Homo sapiens: one gene and its partners. The protein of the gene in region 2 purifies or fractionates together with the protein of the main gene of each other region. This does not show direct contact. Each region holds a gene or a part of one and is shown on either strand. Other genes may lie near its edges.

What was found.
Region 1: the proteins of TMTC4 (region 2) and HEPHL1 purify together in Homo sapiens (affinity purification with mass spectrometry; one large-scale study listed by BioGRID and IntAct). This does not show direct contact.
Region 3: the proteins of TMTC4 (region 2) and SNX12 purify together in Homo sapiens (affinity purification with mass spectrometry; one large-scale study listed by BioGRID and IntAct). This does not show direct contact.
Region 4: the proteins of TMTC4 (region 2) and HERC3 purify together in Homo sapiens (affinity purification with mass spectrometry, with the first as the bait; one large-scale study listed by BioGRID). This does not show direct contact.
Region 5: the proteins of TMTC4 (region 2) and ARL8B purify together in Homo sapiens (affinity purification with mass spectrometry; one large-scale study listed by BioGRID and IntAct). This does not show direct contact.

The regions. Positions count from the first base shown.
Region 1 is NC_000011.10:94,110,293-94,116,440, reverse strand, and holds the end of HEPHL1 (ferroxidase HEPHL1 precursor), read right to left. Parts: intron 5,539-6,148; coding exon 5,376-5,538; intron 4,905-5,375; coding exon 4,836-4,904; intron 4,750-4,835; coding exon 4,547-4,749; 3' UTR 2,233-4,546; downstream 1-2,232. UniProt on the Homo sapiens protein: Is a copper-binding glycoprotein with ferroxidase activity. It oxidizes Fe(2+) to Fe(3+) without releasing radical oxygen species. May be involved in the regulation of intracellular iron content.
Region 2 is NC_000013.11:100,635,313-100,641,782, forward strand, and holds part of TMTC4 (protein O-mannosyl-transferase TMTC4), read right to left. Parts: intron 3,543-6,470; coding exon of another isoform or gene 3,369-3,542; intron 2,711-3,368; coding exon 2,618-2,710; intron 2,391-2,617; coding exon 2,226-2,390; intron 1,423-2,225; coding exon 1,220-1,422; intron 1-1,219. UniProt on the Homo sapiens protein: Transfers mannosyl residues to the hydroxyl group of serine or threonine residues.
Region 3 is NC_000023.11:71,061,909-71,067,750, forward strand, and holds part of SNX12 (sorting nexin-12), read right to left. Parts: intron 5,160-5,842; exon of another isoform or gene 5,098-5,159; intron 2,804-5,097; exon of another isoform or gene 2,680-2,803; coding exon of another isoform or gene 2,677-2,679; intron 1,042-2,676; coding exon 946-1,041; intron 60-945; coding exon 1-59. UniProt on the Homo sapiens protein: May be involved in several stages of intracellular trafficking.
Region 4 is NC_000004.12:88,593,538-88,600,007, reverse strand, and holds part of HERC3 (probable E3 ubiquitin-protein ligase HERC3), read right to left. Parts: intron 4,452-6,470; 5' UTR 4,394-4,451; intron 2,059-4,393; exon of another isoform or gene 1,921-2,058; intron 1-1,920. UniProt on the Homo sapiens protein: E3 ubiquitin-protein ligase which accepts ubiquitin from an E2 ubiquitin-conjugating enzyme in the form of a thioester and then directly transfers the ubiquitin to targeted substrates.
Region 5 is NC_000003.12:5,167,822-5,174,291, reverse strand, and holds part of ARL8B (ADP-ribosylation factor-like protein 8B), read right to left. Parts: intron 3,790-6,470; coding exon 3,709-3,789; intron 2,143-3,708; coding exon 2,069-2,142; intron 1,646-2,068; coding exon 1,552-1,645; intron 276-1,551; coding exon 208-275; intron 1-207. UniProt on the Homo sapiens protein: Small GTPase which cycles between active GTP-bound and inactive GDP-bound states.

The DNA of each region.
Region 1 (6,148 bases), on a different chromosome or scaffold from region 2:
CATTCAATGAATATTTGCTGATAAACTATTATGTATTTGTACTATGATCTCTGCTGGGGATGCAACATTGAGCCAAACAGGTCAGGCATCCTTGCTTCCACAGAGCTACATTCCAGCCAAAGAGGCAGACAAAACTTAAGCCAACAGACATAAAATGATTATGTCCTGTAATAAGTGCTGCAAAGGAAAACAGTGAAGATAGTAAATAACAGAGGGAAGGACCCACTTTAGAGAGGGAAGTCAGGGGAACCCACATGTGAACTAGAAAAGCTAGGAGAATATGATATTGAATACTGAGTGTCAACTTGATTGGATTGAGGGCTACAAAGTATTAATCCTGGGTGTGTCTGTGTGGGTGTTGCCAAAAGAGATTAACATTTGAGTCAGTGGGCTGGGGAAGGCAGATCCACCCGTAATCCATTGGTCACAATTTAATCAGCTGCCAGTGAATATAAAGCAGGCAGAAAAATGTGAGAGGGAGAGATGGGCTTAGCCTCTCAGCGTACATCTTTCTCCCATGCTGGATGCTCCCTGCCCTCGAACATCAGATTCCAAGTTCTCCAGATTTGGGACTTGGACTGGCTCTCCTTTCTCCTCAGCTTGCAGATAGCCTATTGTGGGACCCTGTGATCATGTAAGTTAATACTTAATGAACTTATATATATATATAAAATGAGTTTTTATATCATTATATACATATAAAATGAGTTTATATATCATTATATATTATATATATATATATAAAATGATCTATTCTACACATGACTGGCAGATTAATCATCTTAAAGCACAAGACCGGTATTATTATCCTCTTACATATATATATATATATATATATATATATATATATATATATATATATATATATGTTCTGTCCCTCTAAGAGAACCCCGACTAATACAGAGAGGGAATGAGGAAGCTAGGGAGGGAGAGCATTCCAGGCATAGAAAGCAGCATGTGCAAAGGCCCTGAGGCAAGAAAGAACTAGCAGAGTATAGGAGCGGATGAAAGCTGGAGCAGAGTTCAAGAAGTTGGAGGAGTGGGCATGGGCCAAGTCAAGCTGGGTCTTAAAGACCAAGGTAAAGAGTTTGGATGTTATTAAAAGTGAAATGGGAAGACAGTAAAGGGTAGTAACCAGGAAAGTGATGAAATTTGGAAAAACGTGAGGCAATGTGTGGACAGTGGTGGAAAGGAGCAGTAGTGATGATGGAGAGGCTGGTTTGGGGACTGCTGCAGTGGCCCTACTCAAGCAGGATTTGTGTGAATCTGCAGCCCAAGGTCAGGGTTAGAGAAATACATTTTGAATTTGTTTGCATAAAAATGGTTTTCCGATCATAAGGATGGATAAAATAAACTATGGAGTGGCTGGTAACACATTACCACAAACTTGTTGGCACACATTTCTTCTCTTACAGTTCTGGACCTCTGAAGTCCAAAATCAGTTTCAAGATATCTGCAAGGCCAACCTCTCTCTGGAGGCTCTAGAGGAAAATCCTTTCCCTTACCTTTCCCAGCTTCTGGAGATGCATTCCTTGCATTCCCTGGCCCATGGCCCTTTCCTCCATCTCCAAAGCCAGCAGCATGGCATCTTGTCTTGGTTGTCATATTGCCTTCTTCTGTAGCCAAATCTCCCACTGCCTCTCTTTCATAAGGACACTCATGATTACATATAGGGCCATTATGGATAATCCAGTATAAATTTCCTATCTTCAAGATCCTTAATCATACCTGCAAAGTCCCTTTTGCCACATAGGGTGACATTCACAGGTTCAGGGATTAGGACATGACATCTTTGGGGCAATATTCAGCCTACCACAGAGGGTAAAAAGCGAAAAAGGACCCAGTGTCAAGTTCTGAGGCATGCTAACATTTAGGTCAGACAGAAGAGAAGGAACTAGAAAAAGAGATTGAGAAGGAATAGTCATTGAGGAAGAAGGAAGGCTGGCAGAGAGTCATGTTGCAGAGCCAAGGGACTAGAGACTCCGAGTGTTCAGAAGGAAGGAGCTGTTTCTTGTTGCTGAGAGGTTGAGTAAGATAAAGATGGAGAAGAAGCCACTGGAAATGGCATCATGATTGGTGATCTCTACCACAGCAGATTGGGGTGTGGGGGCTGGGCACGCTGGATTGAAAGCCATCAGAATGGGCTGAGGAATGCATGGGGTGAGGTAGTACAGGCACCAAGTGTGAATACCTCTATGTTCTGCTATCAAAGGAAGAGAGAAACTGTGTCGGAGGGGGTTATAGAGTTAAATAAGACAGCACATTGCTTTCTGTTTTTAATGGCGGACATTGCTGATGGTTTCATAGAAAGATGCAGGAGGAAAAATGGATACCCAAGGGAATGAAGTCTTGAGAAAGCAAGAAGCAATGAGACCCAAAGTCAAATGAAGAGACTGTCCTGCTAGGAGCAGGGACACGTGTATTGTAATAGGAAGAAATATGTGTGTAAGTGAAGGCAGAGTTGATTTTCTCAAGAGTGAGGCTGAGAACAAGGAGTGTAGTTATGTTTGAGGAAACAATGTTTGAGAAGTCATATTATTTGTGGAGATACACTATTTTGTTTCATTTCCTCTAACAAGTGTCATTGGCATAGTCATAGCCCCTAAATATCTAAAAATTAATTCCACTTTAACCACCTCCCCTAGTTCAGTGATAGATAATTTTAAGTGAAAATAACCATGCAAATAGCCACCTTATGTGACACTTTATTAAAATGATAAATGATGCAATCAAACTACTTTGTGGTTTTGTTTTCATTAAAAAAATAAACTGAAAAGAAAAAAAAACAACTGAACAACTTGTCTTACTAAGGTGGGTAATAAATAAGGCATTTACCATAATTATGAAATTATGCAGCCTACACATGTATGAAAACTGTAGAACATGTACTATGAAATCACATTGTCAATGGTTAGCAGATTGAAATTCAAAATCTTTTGTGTATGCTGTTTGATATGACATTCAAGCAAACTATGAACAGAACTATTAGCATTTGCATCCCCTTTTATGTTAAGACTATAGCTTCTATCCAATTACCCATTTCCCCTCATGAAGATGAAGATGAGACAGTGTGAAAGGTCCCTCCACCAGAATATTTCTTAGGTCCTTGTCACTCACTTTGACATTCAAATTACCCACTGCTAAGGCAGGCATACCAGTATCACTCATCTAGCATTGGCATTGGAATCTCAGGGCATCTCGCCCAGAGCTAAAAGCAATTTCTCAGTCTTGTAATAAACAATGTTACTTTTATCAATCTTACACCTACTGTCTAAGCATAGGTATGGACAGTGTAGATTGCCTCATAATGGGTTGAGTTTAGTTGTTCAATAATTTTTTTGCATTTGAACCTTGGAAATTATTTATTAATTTTCAAAGCTGGTTTAATGGTTTAAGAGAATCTGCCACCAAGATTATCTTTTTCTCACCTTTCCTTTTCCTTTTTTCTCCTTCCATGAAGAGGTATGTCTTTAAAAGCCATAGAATCTAGGATATTTAGAGGTCCCTTCTCCTATCTAGTCACCTACATTGATAAATTCCTCCTGATGTTTCTCATACAATGAGAATGTTATAATTTCATAGAAGATGAGGACTTGTAAAGATTCCCTCTAACTGAATGAAAAATCAGACTCCAAATTCAAGCCCAGACTTGCCTCCTGCAAAGCTTCCCTCCCTGATAGAAAGCTTGCTCTAAACTCTCAGGGAGTCCCTGATTCATAAAGGGAGAGCCTAACATGTTCTTTTACAGATTTCAGCCCTCCCACAGTCTGCAGTAGAAATACAATTTCTCTACTTGATTTTTGAAAGTACAAACATTGCCACAGAAACATATTGTAAAAACATGTAACATGAAGTGAGTTGTAAACATTCAAGTATTTCTACAGGTTTGAATAAAAACAGCAGCAATTTTTTAAAAAACGTATAACTTTGCTTTTTAAAACAAGCACTGCACAGGCTATTTATATCAAAGAGGAAAAGGCCAGGAGAGCTGGTTAAAGCCTCCAAAAAATTTATTTGGTCTAATTCTATCAGCAGACACTGACTTAGACATTGCCAAGAACTCCTAAGAAAGATATTTTCCACAGAACCAAGGGATGCATGTTATGCAACAATGTTGAAAAAGTAGTGCCCTTCCAGTTAAATGTCTGAGGCACTCTAACTTTTTCTAGAAGCTGTTCACCTAGAAACTTTGGTGGTTAGCTAAGAAAGCACTGTTCAAGAATTATAAAAGATGGAATATAAAGATATCTTTCAGAGTGTCTCCTATTCAGTGAATCCAACCAAAGAATAGACTAAGAGTTGACATTCTCAGCCATGCCCATTCTCCTTTTTCTGTGTTTTATACCTGAGGATTATTCGCAGCCCATTTAAAAATAAATAAATAAAAGCAAATTGCTTTGGATGATGTTTGAGAGGATCAGAAGGCTGATCCAGGATACAGTGTCAACCTTCCTTGGTGAGTGATGCCTTGGTCCAGTTTCCCTGTTGGCTGCCATCTGGCCAGCTGTGGGACATCACCCTTTCCTGTTGAGGGAGACCAGATGGTTCACAGAGCATCCGTGGGGAGAGCACAGGACTGGACTTGCTGGTAATCTGTCTGCTTCATTGCAGAGCAGAGTCTGAGGGAGAGAATCACCGTGGTGATTAGAAGGAGGAGTCCAATGATGAAAAGGATGACCAAGGCTGCCTTGGCTCCTGTTGGACCCAGATTCTTGCCAAAGAAATAGAGCTGCTCTTTGCCAGGTCGTTCTGTGAAAAAGATAAACTTGTCAGGCCCCTGACATTTTTGAGGGGTGAAATGTTGACTCATTTACATGGGGAGAGGGTATCATTACCGTTAGATGGCACCGTGGCTGGGTGAGATGCCACTCCAGGAGATGTGGTGGAGTAAGGAATCCTGTTGTCTGCACAAAGAAAACAAGTTCATTGTTTTATTAACAACAGAAGGGGATTCTTTTCATGACACTAGTCATTTCATTTCACCAGCGAGGACTTATCCCATCAGTATCTGCCAATCATTTCTGGATTCTTACTGTGCTACTTCATTCCCATGTACATGCTTTCCTGCCCCAGCTGTCTTTCCCACTTCTGCTCACCCACTGAGTCTATCTGGAGCATCATGGCCTCTGTGAAACTTTGGCTCATATCCTCCAACTGTTACCCATTCACTCCTACTGCTGCTATTAAGCCCTGTACTCTGCATTCTGCTACGGCACATAGCATACTTGATTATAGTTACATATTTACATATATGTCTCTCTTACTTGACTCTGAGCTTGTTGAGGGCTATATCTGGGTTTTTGTCATGCCTCCTGTTTTGGGGGTCTACAGGAAGCTCGGTGCCATCATCTGGCATCACTGACAGACAACCGTACCTATGTTACGAAGGACCGTGTAGGTTGTCTCCATGCCAGCATGGATGTGGTCAGACACATGACAGTGTAGCAGCCATGTCCCTGGGTGATCTGCAAACAGTTCAATGGTTTGGAATGTCCCAGGAAAGAGATCATACACATCTTCTCGGTAAGATTTATCTATCTGCAAAAACGTTTTAAAAAACAACAGCTAGTAGCCTTCTTTGCTCAGAACAGCAAGAACAGAAAGAAGAGCAAAAACAAATAAAACCCACAGTAAGCAAAAGGAAGGACATAAGAAAGAGCAGGAATCAAGAATAGAAGTACAATAGAGATAAGTCAAAGAAATCTAAAACTGATTCTTTGAACAGATCAATAAAATCAATAAATTCTGTAGTAGCCAGCTTCCATGATGGCCCACAATGATCCCCACCTCCTGGTATTCATAACCTTTGTGGTTCCTACCTACATTGTATAAGGGTTGGTATGCGAAATCAATAGCATGTGGAAGAAGTGCTGGCATTCCAATTCCAAGATTAGGTTATCATTACTTCTGTGTTAGATACTCTGTCACCCTCTTCTCTTGGATTACTCACTGGAGGAAGCCAGTTTTCATGTCTTATCCACATGATCAGGAGCTGAACCCTCTAGTTAACAACCATATCAGTAAGTTTGGAAGTGGATCCTCCAGCTCCAGTCAAACCTTTGAAAACTGCAGCTCCAGTCGACATCTTGATTGCCTCCTCATGAAAGATTCTGAATCAACCAACTAGTTAAACTAATCCCAAATTCCT
Region 2 (6,470 bases):
AAGATATTGTTGTCAGCCAAAGGATATCATCAGTAGAGACAGTTTAGCTTGGTAGCATGTGGATAAGGCACAAAAATATTCCTCTGGCACTTCACAGCGAGTCTAAGGGTAAAACTCAAAAGCCATACAATTCGTATGGAGAAAATTAGCATGATCGCATTTCTGAGGCCTTATTAATTCACCTACTCCTCACTATGCCTCAAACCATTTAGGTACTGAACAGTTCAGTGGATATTGTTGGTCTCAATTAATTCAAAAACTGTCCCAATCAGTTTTCACGGGGAAAAAAAAATTCCTCCAAAATGTAATGAGAATAATAACACTTAAGTAAGTTTAAAGTTTATGAAATTTGAAATAAACAAATACCATTTTTTGGTTGCTACATCACCACCATAAATTTCAGTCAGGGAGATACGAAGCTGAGCATTGAAACACTTCTGGAACCACCTGATCATTCCCAATGTCCCCTATGATGCAAGAGGATGAATTAAGACTCTAGGTCAATTTTGGTGGCTCCTTCTTGGGCCCTGTGGCTACAGTATTTCTATAAAAATCCCATTTTCTGTGGATAAGGGAACTGGGACTAAAGTTTGTGGCTCCTTAGAATTACTAACCAATTCAACACACAGGTAAACTTAAAACTTAATTTATTTTGAGACATTACTAATCTAATTCCATAAACACTTAGGCTTAAAGGAAATCACCTTAAACAGTTTTCTTTTTCATGAAACACATTTGTTTTCCCCAATTATTTTCTCAATAACTTTTTTTTCCATCAAGAAAGAACAGTCTCTTTGGGGCAATGGCTTATTTTGTACCCAGCTACAACAGAGGGAATCATGGCAGCGTTCACCAGGGTGTTTTGAGGAAGAATTGTGCAATAATGGGCACAACACACATCAATTACACTCTCTGTTCTGACCGTAAATTACTCTTTACCACCTATGGTGAAAAGGATCGCAAAATGCTACTTCCTAGGGAAAGGGGAAGGGAGGGATGAAGCAGTCATCCGTAGCTCCTCTTCCAGCCTCGCTCCCCACCCGCGGAAGCCAGCCATGGATTCCAAATGGATGGAACTCATCCTAGCCATAAATATGCATTTGAAACAAATGTCCTTAGACGTGACTTCCACAAAATCATAAAAATGATCAGCGCAGGATTTCACAAAACGCTTCTGACTCAACCAGCGTGGAACTTAAGATTCAGTGCTGCCTCTTACCTTCTCTTGTGGCCGTCTTCAGAGCACAGGGCTTGGCATATCAGGCCAATTAGGCAGAACCAGAGTGCTGCAAGTGCAATTACCCTCCAGTCGCTGATGGACTTAATGAGGGGGATGCAGCCCATTGACCAATCAAAACACAGCCACCAGGGACACAGCAGCAGCCAGGCATTCAATGAATAGTAGTAATTGTAGTTTACGGCCTGCCAGTCAAAAGGAGAACAAACATCTATTTGATACTGAACTTAAAAAACACATATATACGCACTAACTTCACTTTGGAGGCACTCATATGCTTCTGCTCAATGAAAGCAGTTGTATCAAATAAAATGTTGCCAACGTGTATTGGGTATGTGACTATAGTCTGTAAAAATGTATTAAATGTATTCAGATTTTGGTATATAAAAATATGGCAAAGCCATCAGACTATGCAATACATTCGTTATATTTCTGGCAAAGCTATGATCTATTTGCTGCCTGAAGCCTGTGACCTCTAAATCTGAGGACCCAGGGTCACCTATACACCCAATAACATAACAGGCTTCGATGGCTGTTCTCTTGATTTTGGTCTCTATGAAATGCACAGCTAAGAATCTGTGGCTTGATACCCTTGCCTTTAGAAAAAAGGCAAATCTAAAAGAATAGTCTTGACACCACTAGTCTTCTAAAGATACCACCAAGAAGGTTATATTTAGCCTTAACCCAGCCACAGGGTTAGGGAGCCCTTTCACGGGACTGGCAAGGACCCTGATGTGAGAAGGAACCACCCTCTTTACTCCTTGTTAGAACGGAAATGCAAGGAGCTTCTGCATGCCCTTTCAACCCCCTCAGGAAGACCTGCTTTCATCCCAGAACATCTTTAGTGATCGCAAGCAAACATGGAGGTGGCGCGTGTATTGGGGATTTTGTTGGCGTGCAGAGGAGTGAGACGAGGAGGAGGGGTGAGGGATCTGGGAATCTGGTGGGGGAAGAAAAGAGTCCAGGGGGCGGCAGGCTCAGAACTCACCCTCACCAGCATGCTGTCAGCAAAGGAGGCCGGGTTGTCCACCTCGGTGAAGGCCGGCGGGCCCGTGCCCATGATCCTCCAGCGCACGTAGAGCATCCCAGCCCCTCCAGAGGTGAGCAGGGTCATTCTGAAGAGGAGGCCCCCGTTCCTGAGCATGCCGAGATTCTGCAAGGACATCGCAAAGCCCCAGAGGTGGCTGATTTTCACATAAAAGTGTGGCTGAGCCAGGTACAGATGTGCAGCAATTCTGCCTGAACTGCTTCAACACTGTGCTTTAAAAGGCTGGTTATTGTAGAATTCAAAATCACAAGGAATATTTGAGAATGGCATTTTAAATCAGCTGGTACTTGACATTTTCCATGTCTGGGCTGGAGATAAAAGTACAGACTCACCTCTAATGACTTGTCCTTATGTAGTACCTTCTGGACAATTTCCAGAACATTGAATTTGCCTATCACCAAGATGTCAAATACCGCATTTAAACCCTAAGAAAGCAAAGCAAGACAATCAGCCACGGGAGAGCTTGGCTGTGTTAGGCAGCAATTACACTTCACAATTTCATTACTCAATCTAGACAAGGAACACATAGACTAGAGAATCACGGAAGACCTCTGCAGCTCTTTAAAAAAACACATAACAGCCGTACGTTTCTATGAAATTAGCTCAAGGTAATAGATCATATTTATTATTTAGTAAGCCCCTGATAGTAATGATTTCACAGTCTGCGTGTAGGAGTTCTACAAGATTCAGGATAGCTAGAAATTTGGGATTCCTAGGAAAAGCCCTCGAGAGATACCCCCTCCCCACTTTTTTTGGTCACTATAAAACAGTCCTTTAGTTCATGCAACAGAGTGTTTTCCTGGGCAGTAATCATACTGGAAGATAAAGGCAGCCATCAACCTCAAAAACCCAGCCATGTAAGTGAACCTTAAGTGCCAGTGCACTTTGGCATCTTTAGAAATGGGATGAACACACATGATAATCTCTAATGGAGCTCTGGAGATCTCTTGTGCAGAAATCTAGTTGTCCAGTAGTTTTCTCGCTGGGTTACAACTAGATGACATCTCCCAGCCTCCCCTGCAGTTAAACTAGGTTGCGGGGCTGAGTTCTAGCCTTATGGAATGTGGGAGAAGCGACACGTACCATTTTGGATGTTTGGTTGTAAAACTTGGGCACACATTCCCACTTGGTTTCCCCTTCCAGCTGGCTGGAATGGAGATGGACAGGGTGACTTTGGAAACCACACATTGATGAGAGCAGGCCTTTGCCAGGCAGGGCCGTGGTGTGGAGGACGGCCACCTCTATCAATTTACAGCTCTGTCCATGACCCATGAGGGGAACAACAAATAACTTCAATTAGCAGTCCACCTATGTTAACAGTTTCCAATAGCACCACGATAGTTACTTTCTAGCCGGTAAAATTAAACCTGTAGTTACAGGCGAAAGGAGAGATGGGCCCTGGATTCTATTCTCTCTCCTGCCATGGACTTTCTATAAATGTCACTGCTGCAGGCAGTGTCATCGACAGAACTCCCTGCCCAATCTGGATAAAGCAGTCTGCACATACTCAGTGGATATTGTTAAAGCTGCCCCTAAATGACTTGGGTCTCTTTAATATGATCTTCTTTGCGGCAAAGGAGATCACACATCATCAGAAGTCAGTGGTAATTTGTGGTTTTCAGAGCAAGGATGACATCCCTACTTAACCCTCTCCCAGAAATGCTGGGAGCCACTAATTATCTAATACATGGGCCAGTGCTGGGTTAATCAGTTCAAAGAATTCTGATTTTATTCACCCATGTGAGACATGATCTTAGTGGGTCACAGAAGACCGTTTCTGCCTGGTTGAAAACCACTTTCTAGAAGGCAGATGCTCCCTGCGTAGCAGCCATTGTCTTCTCACAGTTTTCCTGTGAGCTGCAGGACAGTTACCAAGGGGTGGCAGGTTCATGTGGTGAAGAGGCCTGAGCCAAACACAAGACTGCCCCCTTCCTTCTTAAATGCATCATCAAAATGGCCCCATTTTAATCCAATTTTTGAGAATAGCTACCTTTCACTGTATCTTTATTCATGTAAATTCAACCGAACTCTCTCCTGCTCCTGAAAAACGGCACAGAGGAGGCCTGGCGTGGTGGCTCACGCCTGTAATCCCAGCACTTTGGGAGGCTGAGGTGGGTGGATCACCTGAGGTCAGGAGTTCGAGACCAGCCTGGCCAACATGGTAAAACCCTGTCTCTACTAAAAATACAAAAATTAGCTGGACGTGGTGGCATGTGCCTGTAATCCCAGCTACTCGGGAGGCTGAGGCAGGAGAATTGCTTGAACCTGGGAGGTGGAGGTCGTAGTAAGCTGAGATTGCACCACTGCACTCCAGCCAGAGCGACAAGAGAGAAACCGTCTCGAATAAAAATAAAAATAAAATAAAATAAAATAAAATAAAAAATAAAGTACTGCACAGAGGAGCCTCCCGAGGACCTTGTAGATGGAAATTCCGACTCAGCAGGCCTGGGGAGGGGGTGGGGCCTGGGATCCTGAATTCCTAACCCTCTCCCAGATATTGCTGATGCTCCTGGTCCTCAAACCACACTTCGTATTAGGGAAAGGTTCTAAAACCAGCAGTTCTCAGGGACGATTTTGCCCTCCAGGGGGGTGTTTGGCACTGTCTGGAGACATTTTAGGTTGTCACAATTGAGAGGTCCCACTGGCATCTAGTAGGTGGAGACCAGGGACGCCACTAAACATCCCACAAACCCAGAACAGCCCCCACAAGAAAGAACTGTCTGCTGTAAAACATTAATAGTGCCAAGGTTGAAAAACACTGTTTTAGAGCAAATTAAAAAAAAATTAACTCATGAAATTCAAGTATCTTTCTATGGTAATTCTCCCTATACCATCTCTTTGCTAGCTTAATCTTAATAGATACAACCTAATAAAACACTAATTTTTGCCTTGACTTGTATCAAGCCCCAGACAGCTTTAATTGTTCTTTCCTTTCCAAGCTATTTCTATATGATCATTCTAATCCCACAACTTGGCCAGGCGTGACGGCTCATGCCTGTAACCCCAAGGCTAGGAGTTTGAGACCAGCCTGGCCAACACAGGGAGACCCCATCTCCACAAAAAATTTTAGAAAATTAGCTGGGGTGGTGGCACACACCTACACTATACCAGCTACTTGGGAGGCTGAGGTGGGAGGATCGTTGAGGCTGCAGGGAGCTGTAATCACGCCACTGCCCTCCCTCCAGCCAGGGTGACAGAGTGAGGCTCTGTCTCAAAAAAAAAAAAAAGGGAAAAAAAATTCCATATCTTTCCATTTCTCTACCTCTGTTCACAACCTTAATTTCTATATTTTCTTCTAATAATGGAAAGCAATGGAAAGCAGGAAACTGGTTAGAATGGAGAAAAAGAAAAATGGATTTCAACACCTCTCCTTTCCTGGGTCTTTAATCCTAGCATCTACTCAGATCAGACTGAAAAGGTAGATGTCTTTCCGCTTCAGAGAGCCCTCCCCCACCCCCCTGACACTGCCGGTGGAAGCCGAGGTACAGTTTTTTTCCAGGAAAACAATGTACCCCAAGAGAATACAGTGTATACACATATTACACACAGAGAGACTTCAAGGCTCGAAGTTAAAACACGTGATTACCTGGCACATCTGGCATAAAAAGAGTTCTCTGAGAACAAAGTCCCACTAGAAACATTAGCACCATTACAGATTCTCCTTTAAATACTAGACTAGTTATTAATCTTGTAATTTCAGGTCAAACATTTGTGACCATGGAACACTTTGGTTCCAGCGTTGCTTGAAGTTGCACTTGGGTGGTGATTAACTATAACCATAGGTAACCGCTGGGGGTGGAGGAATGACGAGAAGAGAGACAGAATGTGTGTGCACGTGAGGCTTTGAGTGGCTGCAGAACTCCTGTTCCTTCATCTTTTCCTTCTTTCTTTTTTTTTTTCTTTTTTTGAGATGTAGTTTTGCTGTTGTTGTCTAGGCTAGAGTGCAATGGTGCAATCTCGGCTTACCGCCACCTCCGCCTCCTGGGTTCAAGCGATTCACCTGCCTCAACCTCCTGAGTAGCTGGGATTATAGGCATGCACCATCGCGCCTGGCTAATTTTGTATTTTTAGTAGAGAAGGGGTTTCTCCATGTTGGTCAGGCTGGTTTCGAACTCCCGACCTCAGGTGATCTGCCCGCCTTGGCCTCCCAAAGTGCTGGGATTACAGGCGTGAGCCATGGCGCCC
Region 3 (5,842 bases), on a different chromosome or scaffold from region 2:
TCTCCTCGGAAAGGGAGCTGCCGCTTCAAGGCTTTCCCAGGCAGTGGTGGTACTACAATCTGCAGGCACACACAAAATTCCAGCCACATGGGAGAGAGACAGAGTGGGAATGAGATGGTAAAGCACCGTGTACCTCATTTCTTATTAGGCATAGGGTCCATCCTGTCCCACAGCCAGCAACTTGCAAGAACTAAGACCATAAGAACAGTCAGGATGGCTCAGGTCAAAAATTAATCCGTTTCTGTGGGAAGACAGGTTTACCACCTCAAAAGAAGGAAATAAACTCCAAATAATCCTCACTTTCCTTAACAAGCCACTACCATTCAAGAATTTAGCTAGGATTTTCCTGACACTAGACTTTCCATTTTTAGCACCTACAGGAATTAAGTTGTACAACTTTACTAGCGACTAAGTGAAGTAATACTTTAAAAAAAAAACTTGTCCTGAACTTACCACTTTCTTTTTTTTTTTTTTTTTTTTTTGAGACAGAGTCTTGCTCTGTCATCCAGGCTGGAGTGCAGTGGCACGATCTCAGCTAACTGCAACCTCTGCCTCCCAGGTTCAAGCAATTCCCATGCCTCAGCCTCCCAAGTAGCTGGGATTACAGGCATCCACCACCACACCTGGCTGATTCTTGTATTTTTAGTACAGGCGGGGTTTCACCATGTTGGCCAGGCTGGTCTTGAACTCCTGACATCAGGTGATCCGCCCGCCTCAGCCTCCCAAAGTGCTGGGATTACAGGCGTGAGCCACTGTGCCCAGCCAGAACTTACCACTTTCAAGTTTCAAAAGGTATCCCCCCGATCTAAAATACTGAGATTTGATGGATAAGAATGTGTTCACCCTCTTCATTCCCTTCAAGACTTTATAGACTGTGGTTGTATGCCCACTCAGCCTATGCAGAGCTCCTCCTCCAAAGATGCCACACAGAGAACAAAGCCATACCTTGCTATCTCTCTCCAGCTCATTTTTCAGCCACTCAAAGTCACTGTAGCGCCGCCGTACGCAGGACTCCTTTAGCTTGAAGATAGGTAGGTTTGTCTACATGGAAGGAAAAATTAAAGAAGAAAGATGGTAATGTTCAGCCTGTGGTAGCCACCTGTCTGAGTAACTTGGACAGGTCCCAATGAAGAAATAGCTCCTATGGATCATGCTCCTATAACCCCTTCAAATCACCACCAGGTAAAAACCAACCCTTACCACATCCAACCTTATCATAGCTGATGATCAGAAGTCCCTTGCTGCTTTGAATTTATCCTACAAGTAGACTTGCAGTAGTATGTAAATATGTACATATAAGAGTTTTCACCAGGCTTGGTGGCTCACGCCTGTAATCCCAGCACTTTTGGAGGCCAAGGCAGGCAGATCACTTGAGGTCAAGAGTTCAAGACCAGCCTGGCCAACATGGTGAAACCCTGTCTCTACTAAAAATACAAAAATTAGCCAGGTGTGGCGGCACACACTTGTAATCTCAGCAACTTGTGAGGCTGAGGCAAAAGGATCACTTGAATCCAGGAGGCGGAGGTTGCAGTGAGCCAAGATCACACCACTGCACTCCATCCTGAGAGACAGAGTGAGATTCTGTCTCAAAAAAAAAAAAAAGAGTTTCACTGCATTTTATTATTTATAATAATAATAAATGTCTATGAATAGACAATAGGTTACAATGAATTATGGTATACCTGTATAGTAGAATATTAAATAACTATGAAAAGAATGTGAAAGCCAGGTGCAGTGGCTCACACCTATAATCCCAGCACTTTGGGATGCCGAGGCAAGGGATCACCTGAGCCCAGGAGTTTGAGAGCAGCCTGGGCAACCATAGCAAGATTCCATCTCTACAAAAAGTAAAAAAGCCAGGTGTAGTGGCAGTGCTCGCTTGTGGTCCCAGCTACTCAGGAGGATCACCTGAGCCCAGGAGGTCAAGGCTATGGTGAACTGTGATTATGCTACTGTAATCTGGCACAGAGACTCTGTCTCTCGAAATAAAAATGAAAGATCTCTATGTGCCAGTATGGAAAGATATTAAGTAGTAAAATCAAGGTATAGAACAGTATATATATATAGCTTGCCTCTATTTGTGTTTTAAAAAGGGATGTATATGTATATATTTATACTGATTAATAAAGTATTTATGAAAATATACTGGTAATGGTGATTGACTTTCGAGAGTAAGAGAAGACAACTGGAATGGGTGGAATAGTCACATTTTTCATTGTACAATTTGAATTTATCATGTGTACATATTACATTTTCCTTTAAAAAGTGAATTTAAATTCCCTGTAAAGAGATAAACACATCCAAGGTATGCCTACCTCTGCTCTTCCTGTCCAAATCCTCTCCATTCTACCAGTGCTCACTCAACTCTCACTTCAAACAAAAAAATTTTCTGACAACAACAACTGGATTTATTGGTTTTCCTCCTCTCTGAACTCTTCTGACAGTTATACTTTAGCATTGCCTGATACACTATTGTTTTATGCATCATGTTTGCCTTGTCTAACTAACTAATCTCATTAAGATCAGAAACTATGACTACTTCTGCATCTTCTAAAATGCAGAATATGCAAGTTACTCAATAAATGCTCAATTGATTAATAGAGACTCTATGTGTCTGTTTATCCTCTCCTCATCTAGAAAATGCATAAGAAATCACCATTACAAAAGTTGGCTTACCATAGCTTGCTCCCTGATATAAATCAGCTCATTCCCACATTTTAAACACTGAGAAGATTCCCAAGGCTCTAGTGGCAACACGAATCCCCTGACAGAAAACCCTGATCTTCACTCCTGTCTACAAGTTCTAAATAGAAATGGCCAACCACATGTATTAATACTGACCATATTTACTGCCAGTCAATTCAGGTGAGAGGATGAATAAAATAAACTAGTTATCTCCTTTCTCCACAACTGCCTCTTGGCAGGAAAAGAGCAACTCGAAACTCCATTAGAGCTTCACACAGAACCCACTACATCATGCTTTGTACTCCTTGACACTGGAAATTGTCTTTTCAGGATCCAGTTCTCAAATAGGCCATCAAAAGCCAAATAACTGGCCAATTGTACATTAAACTCCATCCAGGATCGTCAAGGTCCAAGGAATGTCAATAGGTTGAAATGGAGTGAGATTCATATAAAGTAAGATTACTAAACCATTATTTATTTAAAAGAATAAATAAGGGCTGGATGCGGTGGCTCACGCCTGTAATCCCAGCACTTTGGGAGGCGAGGCAGGCAGATCACTTGAGGTCAGGAGTTCGAGACCAGCCTGGCCAACATGGTGAAACCCTGTCTCTACTAAAAACACAAAAATTAGCCAGGTGCTTGTAATCCCAACTACTCAGGAAGGTGAGGCAGGAGAATCGCTTGAACCCAGGAGGCGGAGGCTGCAGTGAGCCGAGATCATGCCACTGCCCTCCAGCCTGGGTGACAGAGCAAGACTTTGTCTCAAAAAAAAAAAAAAAAAAAGAATAAACAAGGCCAGGCGTGGTGGCTCACACCTGTAATCCCAGCACTTTGGGAGACTGAGGTGGATGGATCACTTGAGGTCAGGAGTTCGAGACCAGCCTGGCCAACATGGCGAAACCCCATCTCTACTAAAAATACAAAAATTAGGCCGGGCATGGTGGCTAACACCTATAATCCCAGCACTTTGGGAGGCCGAGGCAAGCGGATCACTTGAGGTCAGGAGTTCGAGACCAGCCTGGCCAACATGGCGAAACCTGTCTCTACTAAAAATACAAAAATTAGCCAGGCGTGGTGGTACATGCCTGTAATCCCAGCTACTTGGGAGGCTGAGGCAGAAGAATCACTTGAACCCGGGAGGCAGAGGTTGCAGTGAGCCGAGATCATGCCACTGCACTCCAGCCTGGGCTACAAGAGCAAAACTCTATCTCAAAAAAAAAAAAAAAAATTAGCCAGGTGTGGTGGCACCATGCCTTATGCCTGTAGTCCCAGCTACTCCAGAGGCTGAGGCAGGAGAATCGCCTGAACCTGGGAGGCATAGGTTGCAGTGAGCTGAGATCATGCCACTGCACTCCAGCCTGGGTGACAGAGCGAGACTCTGTCTCGAAAAAAAAAAAAATTGTGGAAGGGACCGATTAAAAGTTTAGTGAGTAGAAAAATTTTGCATGCTAAAGTTTTGCTACTAAGTGTTGTCAAGGAGACAGAAGTGTAGCAGAAAGAATATGGAGTCAGACATATTTGTGTTCAAATTCCAGCCCTGTCAGTTATAGTTACGTGTACTTGGGCAAGTTACTTAAACTGCATTCCTCCTCAGTTTCCCATGTGTAAAACGAAGTTCTGTAAGGATTAACACAAATTAAAACCTAGTTCAGTGCCTGGTACACAGTAGGCACTAGATGAACAGTCCCTGTTGCTATTAGAATACCTGGAGTAGGGCCAGGCGTGGTGGCTCACGCCTCTAATCCCAGCCCTTTGGGAGGCCGAGGCAGGAGGATCACTTGCGGTCAGCAGTTCAAGACCAGCCTGGCCAACATGGCGAAACCCCGTCTCTATTAAAAATACAAAAATTAGCCAGGCATGGTGGCATGTGCCTGTAATCCCAGCTACTCGGGAGGATGAGGCAGGAGAATTGCTTGAACCCAGGAGGCGGAGGTTGCAGCGAGCCGAGATTGCACCATTGCACGGCAGCCTGGGCAATAGAACGAGACTCCATCTCTTAAAAAAAAAAAAAAAAAAAAAAGAATACCCTGAGTAAAGAGCGATTTCATTCAGAATCCCTAAGACTCTTGGGTAATGCATTGAATGTCTCCAAAACCCCACAGCAGACAGCCCTTATGCTGTACTAGTCATGCCCAAGCTCCCTCAGGTAACTAAGTTCTCCAGCACTGACAATTTCCTGCTTTTATCATATTCTGAAGGACCTAAATTCCATTCTCCCCCAAAGACATGATTTCACATAGTTCTTATATAGACAAGTGTTTCTCATGTTTTGCTATTCACTTTTCTTTCTTCAGTTTGGACTTTGCCAAACTTGGAATCTGGAAATCATAATTTCTCAATAAGATTTCAAAGCCCAAGTAGGAGACCACAATTTCTCATTCAATTCACTCCTTCAACAATGAAAGCACATACACTCTTTTAGTTCTTCAATGCTGTTTGAGCAGGATGCTGTCCACAGAGAATATTCTGGCCTTTTAGTCTGAGAAGAAAACATAAGGAAAACTAGAAAATGATTCTCAAACTGTTTTGCCTATAACCACTTCAAGTGGGCAAAAGATCCTGCAAACCAAGTACTCTATCTGCACATTCCATCCTTGCATTATGGGCTAAGCACTAGAGAGTAAAGTCCTCTATCATGCATGCTGGAAGAAGCCACTCCTGGGCAATTCTGAAATGTCATGTATTAAAGTAACTACAGACCAGGGTCAGAATCCAAAAGGGTAATCTAGGACAGAAAGGGCAAAAAGCCATTCATATACAAAGTACCTAAACGAGAGTCAATAAATACTGAAATAAACATTCTGGATACTTCAAATCTAAAGGATCCACATAGAATGAAAGCAGTGACTGACAAGGCACCAATCCCAGGGCCAGGCCAGGTTTCAAGGCGAGACAGCACGTAGTATCTGCGAAAACTTAAGCATAAAACATTTCTCTCCTTCAGATGCTGATCCGACACAAGTTAGGAAAGCGCTCGGTCTCAAGGAGACTCCCTTTCTTATTTCTGCTCCCACAAGCCTACTGTCTGCCTTTTCTGGAATCTACCTTCCCTTTAATTCAAGGCTTTGCTTTACTCCATTATCCCAGGGAGACCTCATTAGAAAGCAGCCGGCCTTCCTGCCCTCCCTCTTCAGACTTCTCACAACCTAGTTTAGTT
Region 4 (6,470 bases), on a different chromosome or scaffold from region 2:
AACAAAAAAAAGATGAAGTAAAGGAAAAGAAAGAGACACTATGCTGTGCTGTATAGTAAGGAGCTTAGAAAGTAGATAACCAAAAGGCCAGACTTCCCAATGTGTCTGCACCACTCTCCAGAGAAAACAGGGACCCTGATCAGTCAACCTGGCTATCTGACCCGCTAAGTAATTCTTTCCTAAAAGTGGATGGGTGGATCAGATTCCATAACAGTTGTCACTAAATTCACCCAACCAATTGCCTTGCTTAGCAAGCAACCTTAAATAACTTGGTTTCTAGGGCAGATTCTACTACAGGGATAGAATACTGTGACCAGGTAACCAAAGCATCTCAGTCTTATTAGGATTTCTAATTCTCATTATTAATTTGGCGTCCTGGGTCTATCAGCTTTTTTTGTAGTTTATCTGGCACGAGTCAGTCCTTGAGAGTCATCTGAGTTCTGGGTGCTTTGGCCAAGCACAATCCTGTGTAAACAGCCTGAAGTATGGCCTCATCCCTGACTGACTAGTAAAAACAATTTATGAAAAAAGATAATAAAAAGGACTATTGTTCAAGAAAACTTCAAAAATTCTTCCAACTGAGTTACAGTAATGGAATCTTCAATTGGTCAAATAAAAACTGCCCACCAAGAGAATTAAATAGCAACCACAAAAAAGATGTGTATCTGTAAATAAACTATCAATCCTAACTATAAATACGGCCTAGGTCATCACAATGCTCTGCCGGAACTAAAGAAAAAAGCAACTAAAATCATCTAGCTTTCAGGAGAGAAGTTCAACACATTGGAGAGAAGCCAGCCATTAGCACAGCTTTCACTTCAAAGTACACTCCAGTTGGACCCCTAAATCTTGTAGCTGCTGATGTCCATGACTTTAAAGGTCTAGTTTCAGCAACGGTCTGCATCGCTGGGCATTTTGATCTCCAAGGTCCTTACACCCATTTTTCCTCATTCACTCTCTTGCTTGCTCCTAGAAGAGCAGAATCTTTTATTTTCCTTCAAAATACACAATTATGAAATTCGCTGCAAAATATAGGACTACACTTCCCTCAGCACCTACACCAGCCCCGCTTGGCTGCATTTCCTGCCTCTTATTTCCCCATGACAAAACAAAAGGAAGGACTACTTTTGAAGTACAACTTTCTCTCAATGTCAACCTGGCACTTTCCTGAGTCCTTCTCATCTATTCTTGGTAAGAGATTCAAGATAATCTTAGCAGAGCTTAAGGGTCAAAGGAACTAAAATCCAAGCCCTACATTAACCACGTTAGCTGTGAAACCTGAGGAAAGATGTTTACCCACCTTAAGCTCCAAAATCAGGAGAAGGTGCTAGAGTGTTGTGAGGATTAATGAGAAAATGCATGTAAAAAGGGCTTAGCATGGTGCCTGGCATGTAGTAGTAAGTGACCAGTAAATGTCAGCTGCTTTAGTCAATGTTACTCCTACTCCTAGTGCTCTTCTTTGAGATTTCAGCAGACAGGACAATTCCCAAAAGAGGATGGGATTGTGACTCCTGTCTTCCTCACTGCAATTAGCACTAGCTGCATTCTGCCAAATCTGCACTACAGCAAAGTAGCATCACAACCATCTGCCATAACTTTCATGAAAGGGATTTGAGGTTGATAGGAGGAAGTTTTTTTGTGTGCATTTGCTTTTAAATTCTGGAGAGGGCATGGGTGGAGGGCGGTGGGGAGATAAATCTCTTTTTACTAGCTCTAGTGAGTTGAATGCTAAACGACAACCTTCAGTTCCTAAACTTTGTCTTATGATAAGACTATGCGACTATGCACACAGCAGCCTAACAACTCATTCTTATCCCTTTGTTTGAAAGGCACTGAGACCAAAATAACACTCAGGCAGGACTTCTAATCTCATTTAAAATAGGGATAAGCTTCCTTTCAAGTAAGCTTAGAAGCAATTACCTGAATGTTGTATATATGAAGAGGGTCTCTTTCAACAGCAGGAAAAGACAATGTCCAAAACCTTCAGTGCTTTGCAGATACTCCCCAAATTCAGGCTTTAAATAAATGTAGGGCCAAAACTAAAATGCAGAATTAACTCTGGTAACAAAGAAGATTCATTTTAATGACTTGCCTTATTATCAAAAATGTTCCTACCAAAGACAGAAATGTCATAGAAGGCAAAGAGAAGTTTTCAACAACGTGAATCCACTCCTTGCTGTTTTCTCTCTCCTCCACTTTAGCTGGACTTTGGTCCTCTGACCCCCTCAGCCAACACAGGAAACACTCCTACCCTTCCCCGGATCATCCCCTCTAAGGTGGTGCCTTCTTCACTACCTGGTGCTAGGCTTTGTGAAGCTGGAAGAATGACTTCTCTGCAGTCTGCTTAAGCTGTGGACTGCCTTCAAAAGACACCAACGAGACTGGCAAGAATTGAAAAGTCTAACAATACCAAGTCAAGGATATACAACAGCCAGGGCCCTCATAGACAGCTGGTGGGAATATAAACTGGCATAAGCACTTGGCAAAACAAGTTGGCATTCTCCAGTGAAGATGAAGATGTGGATACCTCCCCACACAGTAATTTCACTGCTGGGCATATGACCAGCATTATCCAACTTATTAAGCATCTATGGTGCTCCTGTACTATACTAATAAATGGAGATACAAAGATGAGTAAAATCTGGAAACTTGGAACTTTCTGTGATAATGGAAATGCTATATATTTGCACTGTCCACTATGGTAGCCAGTAGGTATATGTGGCTATTGAGTACTTGAAATGTGACTAATACAAGTGAAGAACTGAAATAGTTAATATTTTATTTTAATAAATTTTAATGTAAGTAGCCCTAGGTGACTAGTGGCTATCTTACAGTCCAATGCAGTGAGAAACTCATGAACATATGCACCAAGATACACGTATAAGAATGTTCATTCCAGCATTATTTGAAATAGGAAAAAAACAAAAAACAAATATCCATCAATAAGAAAACAGATAGTGTGGCACATGCATAAAACAGAACACTGTACAGCAGTAAAAAATAAACTCCATCTATAAGCATCATTGTAACTAAATCTTAAAAAGTGTTGAGTCACAGAAGAATTCAGAGTATGATGCATTTTTACAAAATTCAAACACAACTATAACAAATATATTATTTGGAGATTAAGAATCATCAGTGGTAACAAAGCTATGAAGAAAAGCAAATCACAAACACAAAATAGCGGGTAATGATTGTGGAGGCAGTAGGAATAGAGGGAACAATCTGGAAGGAGCACAAAGGGAGACATTTCAATAGCATGGCTGATATTCTGCTTCTGTCCTTTTATTGTTGTTTCTTAACATATATGACATGCATTATTTTATGCTTACAAATACTTCACAAAACAAACAAAAATGCAAAGCGCTGTTGAGGCAGTATGGCTGCTTCTCCTACCTCCTCCACTAACACCCTGCCAACGTGCAGACTGGGAGTTTCTCCATGAAGGAACCAGGTTTTACTCATCTTTGTGCCTTCCATTCTCAGCAGAGTACAAGAGCACAGCAGAGGCTTGATAAATGCCTAGTGAACTGACCCCCATTCTTAGAAAACCTGAATTTCCACCACCTCAACTTGTAACCACTTTTATTTTCCAGATAATGTTAAAGATCCCCCACCCTGAGTAATAATAAAACCAGTTCACTTACACAGAAACACATGTCCCTGCCACCAACAAGTACTATTTCTAAATGGAGTAAATGTCTAAAGGGGACAGAGTTATATTATCAAATTTACCACCTTATTAAAAGTCCATTTGATCTAACCTCTAAGCAAAAGACTTACATTCCTAAATTCATTTTAATGGCAGCTAAGGCCTTCAGAGGCCAAGTAACTTTGGTCCACTAAGAATTAAGTGCTTGGCCAGGCGCGGTGGCTCACGCCTGTAATCCTAACACTTTGGAAGGCCGAGGCAGGCGGATCACGAGGTCAGGAGATCAAGACCATCCTGGCTAACACAGTGAAACCCCGTCTCTACTAAAAATACAAAAAATTAGCTGGGCGAGGTGGTGGGCACCTGTAGTCCCAGCTACTCGGGAGGCTGAGGCAGGAGAATGGCATGAACCCCGGGGGGCGGAGCCTGCAGTGAGCCGAGATCCCGCCACTGCACTCCAGCGTGGGCGACAGCCAGACTCCCTCTCAAAAAAAAAAAAAAAAAAAAAAAAAAAGAATTAAGTGCTTGAAGCAGAGACCAGAAACCAGGTCTCCTACTTCTTGGGCTCACCTTGTTCTCTTCACTATCTTAGAGCAGCAGGAAGGCACTGAGATTTGTTTAGGTCCCTCTCTAGGTAGCTACCCTAGCTTGAGTTGATGAGAGTATTAAACAGGATAATGCATGTAAAGGACTCCATTTACAAGATGAAAAACTGAGGTCCAGAAAAATTAAGTAACTCACCACAGGTCACACACTTGGCATTGGACTAGAAGCCAGAAATATTCCACACCTTGCAGTTCTGCAAGTTAAAGAAATAATAAATAACATTAGTATGGAACTCTGTTGTGTCTTCATGTTACTGTAAACAAAAAGACAGGAGTTAACCTCTGAAAATAAGAATATCTTTAAATTACTCAATCTTGAATATTCCCCACGCATTGTATCTCAAGACAGGAGTTTGGTTAAATACCAGTAAGATAACCTCTAACCAGTTATAAAGACATCAATCACCTCTAAAAGTGAACTAGAGATATAGATATCACCTTATAAAAATTCCTGACATTTGATAGGGAGTAGTAAAAATGGAATTACTTTAAAATCTCCCATTTTTGTTAGAGAAAATTTTGGAAAATAATTAAATTTTGTCTATTTTCTTTATTTTTCCATGTATGACACATAGCAGCTTGTTTTGCCACAACTGTTATGAAGACTGTCTCCTTTCATTCCTTTTCTTTTTTTTTTTTTTTTTTTTTTTGAGACAGAGTCTGGCTCTTTCACCCAGGCTGGAGTGCAGTGGCCGATCTCGGCTCACTGCAACCTCTGCCTCCCAGGTTCAAGCGATTCTCCTGCCTCAGCCTCCCAAGTAGCTGGAATTACAGGCGCCCGCCACCACGCCCAGCTAATTTTTCTATTTTTAGTAGAGAAGGGGTTTCACCATGTTGGTCAGGCTGGTCTCCAACTCCTGACCTCAAGTGATCCACCCGTCTCAAGCCGCCCAAAGTGCTGGGATTACAGGTGTGAGCCACTGCGCCCAGCCAGTCACTGCACCCGGTCTTTCCCTTTTCATTACCACATCCTCCATCATGCAAAATGAGAAGAGATCATCTCAGAGAGATACCTAAAGTATCTCAAAAGAAAAAGTCCTCCATGATTTTAAGATATTTTTGTCAAGCACTTTAGGAGGCCCAGGCGGGTGGACAGCCTGAGCCCAGGGGTTGGAGATCAGCCTGAGCAACATGGCAAAACCCCGTTTCGTCTTTTGGCGAAACCAAAAACTACAAAAAATTAGCTGGGCATGGTGGTGCACGCCTGTGGTCCCAGCTACTTTGGAGGGTAAGGTGGCAGATTCGCTTGAGCCTGGGAGGCGGAGGTTGCAGTGAGCCGAGATCGCACCAGTGCACTCCAGCCTGTGCAACAGAGCGAGACCCCCCATCTCGAAAGAAAAGATATTGTCATAACTTTATTTCTACCTCTCTATGCAGAAAATCCCATTCGATCTGGAGAATAGTACTTTTACTTATAAAACTGAAGCATAACTATCTTGTGTCTCCAGTAGGGGTACTACTACTCTCATTAAGTATAAAAAAAGTTTTTAATTGGTCATACAAATCTTAAGAAATTTAAATTTGGTCTTCAGAATGAAATGCTATAACGAATGGCTTCAAGCACACAACATGGAACATTCTGAAATCCCTGTTTCTTTTTCAAAAAGTAAACTCCAGCTACTTACTGAACAAGAACTGGATGCTAGTGCTAATGTGCTAATTTTGTTTTTCATGCCAAAGGAGTTCTGCCAAAGAGGTTTCTAACCTGTCCTCCTTGTTCCCTGCATTATACTTTTTACAGAAAGTTCCTAGCCTCGAAGGCGGTACGACCATGATGTAAAATATGTAATTCAATTATTTTGCTTTAGGATATGCAATCCATGTACTTTGCTTTTCTGATTTATAATGCTACTCCCTCCTCCCCCAGGGTAAAGGAAAGTACAAAAGGAGAGAGCTTCACAGTAATCTGCCGACTAAAACATGATACCCGATCACCGCATTTAAAACTTTTTATTTTTTCATTTCTCTCAAGTCTAGAGTTGAAAAATCAGCTCACTTGATCTTATCTAATCATCAAATAAAAGGTTCTAGAAATAGCTTCTTATTTGTGGAAAGAGCCAGAAGACACATACAAATGGAAGAGAGCTCTTGAATCGTCTTTCCCAAAGCATTCTATGCGTGATGAATGCAAGCAAAATCCTGGAAGGCTTTTCTCTGAATTAGGTACTTCCTAATTGAGCTCATTTGAAAGCTGATGTAAAATGCAATCAGAA
Region 5 (6,470 bases), on a different chromosome or scaffold from region 2:
ATCACTTTGTTCAATTTTACTCATTAGTTTTATTACTATACTGAAGAAATCATCGTAGCAATCCTAAAATGTTAGGATTCACTTCTCTGATAGGCCAACTTTTATCTACCTAAAAAAAATGGCTATGATCATTAGGAATAACATAACAAGTGGGCAAAATATGGTAATTTAGAAGCAAATTATTAAAATAGCATATTCAAGACATACATTTTTTCAATTAGCTGTTTCTCATCCAAGGCATTAGGAAGATCTCTCTTGTTTCCAAGCACTAGCACCTTTAAAAAGAAAAGATATTAAGAGCACACGTTTATGCAAGAAAAAGTCACAGAAGTTTATCATCTTGATATGTGAAGACACAAAGTTAAGATGTTAACACATTCCACAATGTTAAGGCCTATTTGTGTAACTGGTGGCTTGTCTCATTCATTTCATTGCTCACACTTGTATTCACTCAACTCCCACCATGCAGGTGCTCTTAATTCAGTATGTGGCTGCCAACTGCTATGTAAAATAGTCTGAGTCTATGATACACATTCTGCTATTCTTTTTGTTTGTTTGTTTGTTTGTTTGTTTGTTTGAGACAGAGTCTCGCTCTGTCACCCAGGCTGGAGTGCAGCAGCCACTGGGCTCACTGCAAGCTCTGCCTCCCGGGTTCACGCCATTCTCCTGCCGTAGCTGGGACTACAGGCGCCCACCACCACGCCCAGCTGATTTTTTGTAGTAGAGACGGGGTTTCACCGCGTTAGCCAGGATGGTCTCGATCTCCTGACCTGGTGATCCGCCCATCTCGGCCTCCCAAAGTGCTGGGATTACAGGCATGAGCCACCGCGCCCGGCGGCATTCTGCTATTCTTAGTACAGGTTTACTATCCCTTATCCAAAATACCTGGGACCAGAAGTGTTTCGAATTTTGGAAATTTTTTGGATTTGCATTATATACTTACTGGTTGAGCATTCCTAATCCAAATGCAAATTCCTAAATGTATTCTAGAGACTGGCCTCTTCTCAGTTTCCCACTTCCTCCCACCCAAAGGCCTTTGCCTGGAACTCTCTTCCCCTCCAACTGTCATATACCTCACATTTGTATGTATCCCTTGGATCTCAGCTCAACCATTACTTCCTCGTGAATCCCTCCTTCTTCCCTCAAACTAGATCACATCTCCCCTCTAAATTACAACTCTCATATCCCCTTGCACCTTTCTTCCTAGCACTTAAAGCTGCATTATTCAAGTGTTTTCAGAGTATCTACCTTTCCCACTAAACCATAAGGTCCATGATGGCAAGGAGTATGTTTCTACTGATTTCCATTCATCACTATATCCCTGGGCCTACGCACTGCTCCTGCTGCATAGTAGTTTAGTAGATACGTGGTTATGAGATTCATATTTAGCACAATGCCCAGTATATGGCAGATACATGGTAAGCAAGTTTTCCAGATTTTAAAAATGAAGACATGTTACTGATTTCAAACATAATTAATATCACTGCATAATTACCATAATTAATATCATTATATAATTACAATGTAAAATAACAAGTATTCCATACTTACTGGAATTCCTTGTAACTGTGGTTTATCTAGAAGATTATGTAGCTCATTTCGGGAAGCTTCTATCTTTTCACGATCTGCAGCATCTATCATGTAACTTAAAAAAATGAAGTGATCTCAACATACCTTCTCTGTATGCCTTGATGATGACAACTAGTATTATTGATTTTTAATTTTTGTAAGATTTACATTATTGAAATTATTAACCAAAATAAACTATGTCATAAGAAAAGGCTCAGCACCCTTTAATACTTTTTAACTAGACTGTTTTTAGAGACTAATACATGATAGTAAAACATGTACACCCCTTAGCTCTTAGCTCCATAAACAAAAAACATAAAGATCTTATTCTATGATTAATTTTTTTTAAATCCCATGTTGGGAATTACACTAGGATATTAGCTAAGAAAGATTTTCACTGCCTGAGATAAAAATTGAGCCTCTGGAAATACTAAAATAAACTTTCTTCTTTGATGCCTACATTGATTTAAAAGCAAACAAACAAAAAAAAACCACTTACACAATAGCATTGACTCCTCTGCAATACCGCTCCCACATGCTTCGAAATCGGGGTTGTCCTCCTATGTCCCAGATCTTTAAATCAAAACAAGGCAATTCTTAATAAAGATATTTTAATTAAATGATTGCAAGAGGAAGTAACAGAAAAAAAGAAAGATCGGGAAGATATATTTATTTCTACAATGTTAGAGGCAAAGTGCTCCTGAAAGACTTGACCTCAAACAAGCTCTTAATATGGGAATTCTTGGGGCCACTTCTAAACTTGAAGTCCGTATTTAATACATTTACAATACATCTAAAATTTTGCTTAAGCAAAGATTTGGTTTATGTGCAATAGTTTGCCTGTTAACTAATATACTTCTATTATTGAAAACATATGTCTTTATGATAACAATTTAAAAGCTACAGGACCATGCACCATCCAGATTTGAATGCCAAGACAGAAAACAACAATTCAGAATCTATTAAGTCTTAATCGTCTGATTTGTTCTACATTAATGCCTAACCTTTTGAAATTATCCTGTAAATAAGTAGCCAACATTTCCACATAGGTGTTTTTCTTGTATAAAATTATTTTGGTCAGGCATGGTGGCTCACACCTATAATCCCAGCACTTTGGGAGGCCGAGGCGGGTGGATCACTTGGGGTCAGGAGTTCGAGACCAGCCTGGCCAACACAGTGAAACCTCATCTCTACTAAAAATACAAAAAATTAGCCAGGTGTGGTGGCAGGTGCCTGTAATATACTCGGGAGGCTGAGGCAGGAGAACCACTTGAACCTGGGAGTCGGAGGTTGCAGTGAGCCGAGATCACACCATTGCACTCCAAGCCTGGGCAACAAGAGTGAAACTCCATCTCAAAAAAATAAAATAAAATAAAATTATTTTATGCACATGAAAGCCACATCCATAATCATTTTATTATTGTGTCTACTCCGTAGGGCATCACACTAGACACTGGGCTACATTAAAGTCTCAAGTCACAGTATTAATCTTCAAGAGGCTTCCGGTTTAACTAAAGCACTGGTAACAAGCATAAAGAAACCTGCACTTGACTAAATCTGGAACTTCATTAGATGAGCCACAGAGAAAGTGAACAGCTTCTGTAAACCACAATAATTGGGCAAAATGGACATTAAGGCTCAGGCCATAGATTTGATTTTTGAAAAACAAAATAGATTAAAAATCTATTCTTGGCCAGGCGTGGTGGCTCACGCCTGGAATCCCAGCACTTTGGGGAGGCCGTAGCAGGCAGATCATTTGAGGTTAGGAGTTGAGACGAGCCTAACCAACATGGTGAAACCCTGTCTCTACTAAAAGTACAAAAAATTAGCTGGGTGTGGTGGCACAAGCCTGTCATCTTAGCTATTTTGGAGGCTGAGGCAGGAGAATCACTTGAACCGGGAGGTAGAGGTTGCAGTGAGTGGAGATCGCGACACTGCACTCCAGCCTGGGTGAAAGAGCAAAACTCTGTTTCCAAAAAAAAAACAAAAAAACAACAACAAAAAAACCTATTCTTTTGAAACATGCACATTCATTACTGAAAAACTGCAAATTTTCAGTAAAAACACAGAAATTTAACAGAAAAATTTCTAGGGGTCTGTGCTAACAATTTAAATTGCGTACGGCAAGAAATAACTTACCTTTATTGTGACGTTACCTTTAGTTACCTTCCTCATGTTGAAGCCCACTGTGGGTATCATATCTTCACTGAATTGACCTGACTGAACAAAATAAAACATTTGAAGTTAGGCTACTCACTTATAATGACACTGCATAAACTTCTAATATCAACATTGCATTTGTAACCATTTTAGTAAATATTTTTTTACCATTGGTAACAATCTACTTTAAGAACATGTTCCTTATGGCCATAATTCTTGAAGAGATGCATTATTTTGTCCCAACAAAGATATATTCTTCCATCTAAAAAAGATATTTTTGAAACTAATGTAATTTTTTACATATTTCCTTATGCTAAAAGAATTTTATATGACAAATACATACGAAAATTTTTAAATGTGTTCACCTAGATGTACATTTCCACAAAGTAGATGAGATCAGAAATAAAACTTTCAGCATTTAAATTATTCTGACAGTAACTATTAAAATTCACTGCTAAACAGCATTTCCAAGTCTGTCTTTTAATAAGGCTTATAAAATATTTTGTCATACAGAAGTTTTTCCTTTTATGTAATCAATTTTGTTCTCTTTTTGGTTACTTATCTCAATGTCATGAGTATTGTCTGCTATGGCCTTATGCTAGCCACATACACATGTATTCCAAAATTGTCTTAAATCTTGAGCACAACGAATTCCAACTGTACAAATAACTTCCTATACAGAACTCGAATTGTGCCTCTTTTAACTGTTCAGTGGAGTTTTATTAACTTCAGAAAAAATGTTAACACAGCCATAGTCACTACTTTCACTTATATAAGACATTATAATTCTCAGGACTTTCACATATGTGATTATATGTGAAAATCTAGTCATTCTATCTAAACTAGTTATATCAAAAGTAAGCCATGATAAAAGATAAATGGCCAATGAACTCATGAAAAGACGTTCGACTCACTAATCATTAGGGAAATGCAAATCAAACCCACAAAGAGATACCACCTAACATCCAGTAGGATGGCTACTATTAAGAGGAAAAGAAAAAAAACAGAAAGCACTGGAAAGAATGCAGAGAAATAGGAACTCTTGTATACTGCTGGCAGGAAGGCAAAATGGTATAGCTGCTATGAAAAATGGTATAGCAGTTCCTGAAAAACCTAAAAATAGAATTATCATATGATCCAGCAATTCAACTTCTGAATATACACTCAAAAGAAATGAAGACATTTTGCTAAATGAAATGAGCCAGAAGTCTCACACACTCACACACACACACACACACACACACACACACACACACAAACACTGTATTTCACTTTATGAGGTACCTAAAATAGTCAAATTCATAAAGACAGAAGATATTAATTTGCTTAATGGGTATGGAGTTTCAGTTTGAAAAGATAACAAATTTCTAGAAGTGGACAGTGGTGATGGTTACACAATGTGAATGTACTTAACACTACTGAATTGCACACTTAAAAATGACTAAGATGATACTTTGTGTTTTATGTATTTTACCAAAATTTTTAAAAAACTAGTCATCATACAGGGAGGGACAATTATCATTATCATTTCATAGAACAGGTAGTAGAGTCCCAAGGTCACATGGCTAAATCGTGATTATATTTTTCTTAAATATTTTCATTGTAATTATATTTATTGTGATAGGCTTTAATCTCTGAGGAGAGATCTACGTGAGATAATGCTCATTTATTTCATATCATTAAGTGTTTTACATAATGAAGAGGCAGGAAAAATAGTAGCTAAAATTTTTAGGTACCAAACTTTACAACTAGCTTGCATGGAAAGCTTTCTAAAAGGCAATATACACTTGGCTAACTTCCCACAAACAACCTATAGAACATGATTTAATGTGTTCTCAATGTTTCTGGGTCAGTTTATCTATTGCAAAACAAGAAAACTAAATTAGATAACACTCAAGGGCCCTCCCTATTGGAGGTAAAGTTTTATGATTATGAACATCAACTACAGCACTTCATAATAAAATAATGTAGGGGGCTGCAGTATACTGGGGTACCCCCGAGCTTTCTCAGGGGTTCATTTATCTCTTTTCTTTACCTTGGCCAACCCTAACAACTTTCCTGTAACTCAGCTGCTACTGCTAACATGCAAAAACCGAAAATTAGCTAATCAAGTCCTTGAGTTTTTACTCCAAAATTCTTGAGTAGAGCAAGATATTCAATAAATATTTGTTGAACAAACTAAGAGTTATTAGGGCCAGGCATAGTGGCTCAAGCTTGTAATTCCAGCACTTTGGGAGGCTGAGACAGGCAGGTTGCTGCGGCCCAGGAGTTCAAGACTAGCCTGGGTGACACGGCAAAACCTTCTCTCTACAAATACAAAAATTAGCCAGGCATGGTTATATGCACCTGTAGTCCCAGCTACTAGGGAGGCTGAGGTGGGAGGATTGCTTGAGCCTGGGAGGTGGAGGTTGAGATCTTAAGAACGATATGACTTTAAGACAAGATTGTGCCACTGTACTCCAGCCTAGACAATAGAGTGAGAGCATGTCTCAAAAAAAACATAGGCCATGAAGGAGGAAAATGCTGGAACTCTTCTGCCAATAAAGTGCTTAACTTTGATGCATGAATTTTGTGCAATAATTACTTTATGGACCTGGAAGTATTTTCTACTTCTTTCCTAGTGTCCAATCTTAATCATCACTTTTCAAAGCTTGTGTTGAACAACTATAACCACTCAGTTGGCAACTGGGCACTAGATACCTGAGAATTTATGTCTGAGCTGTCAAGAAGCTGCTTAATTA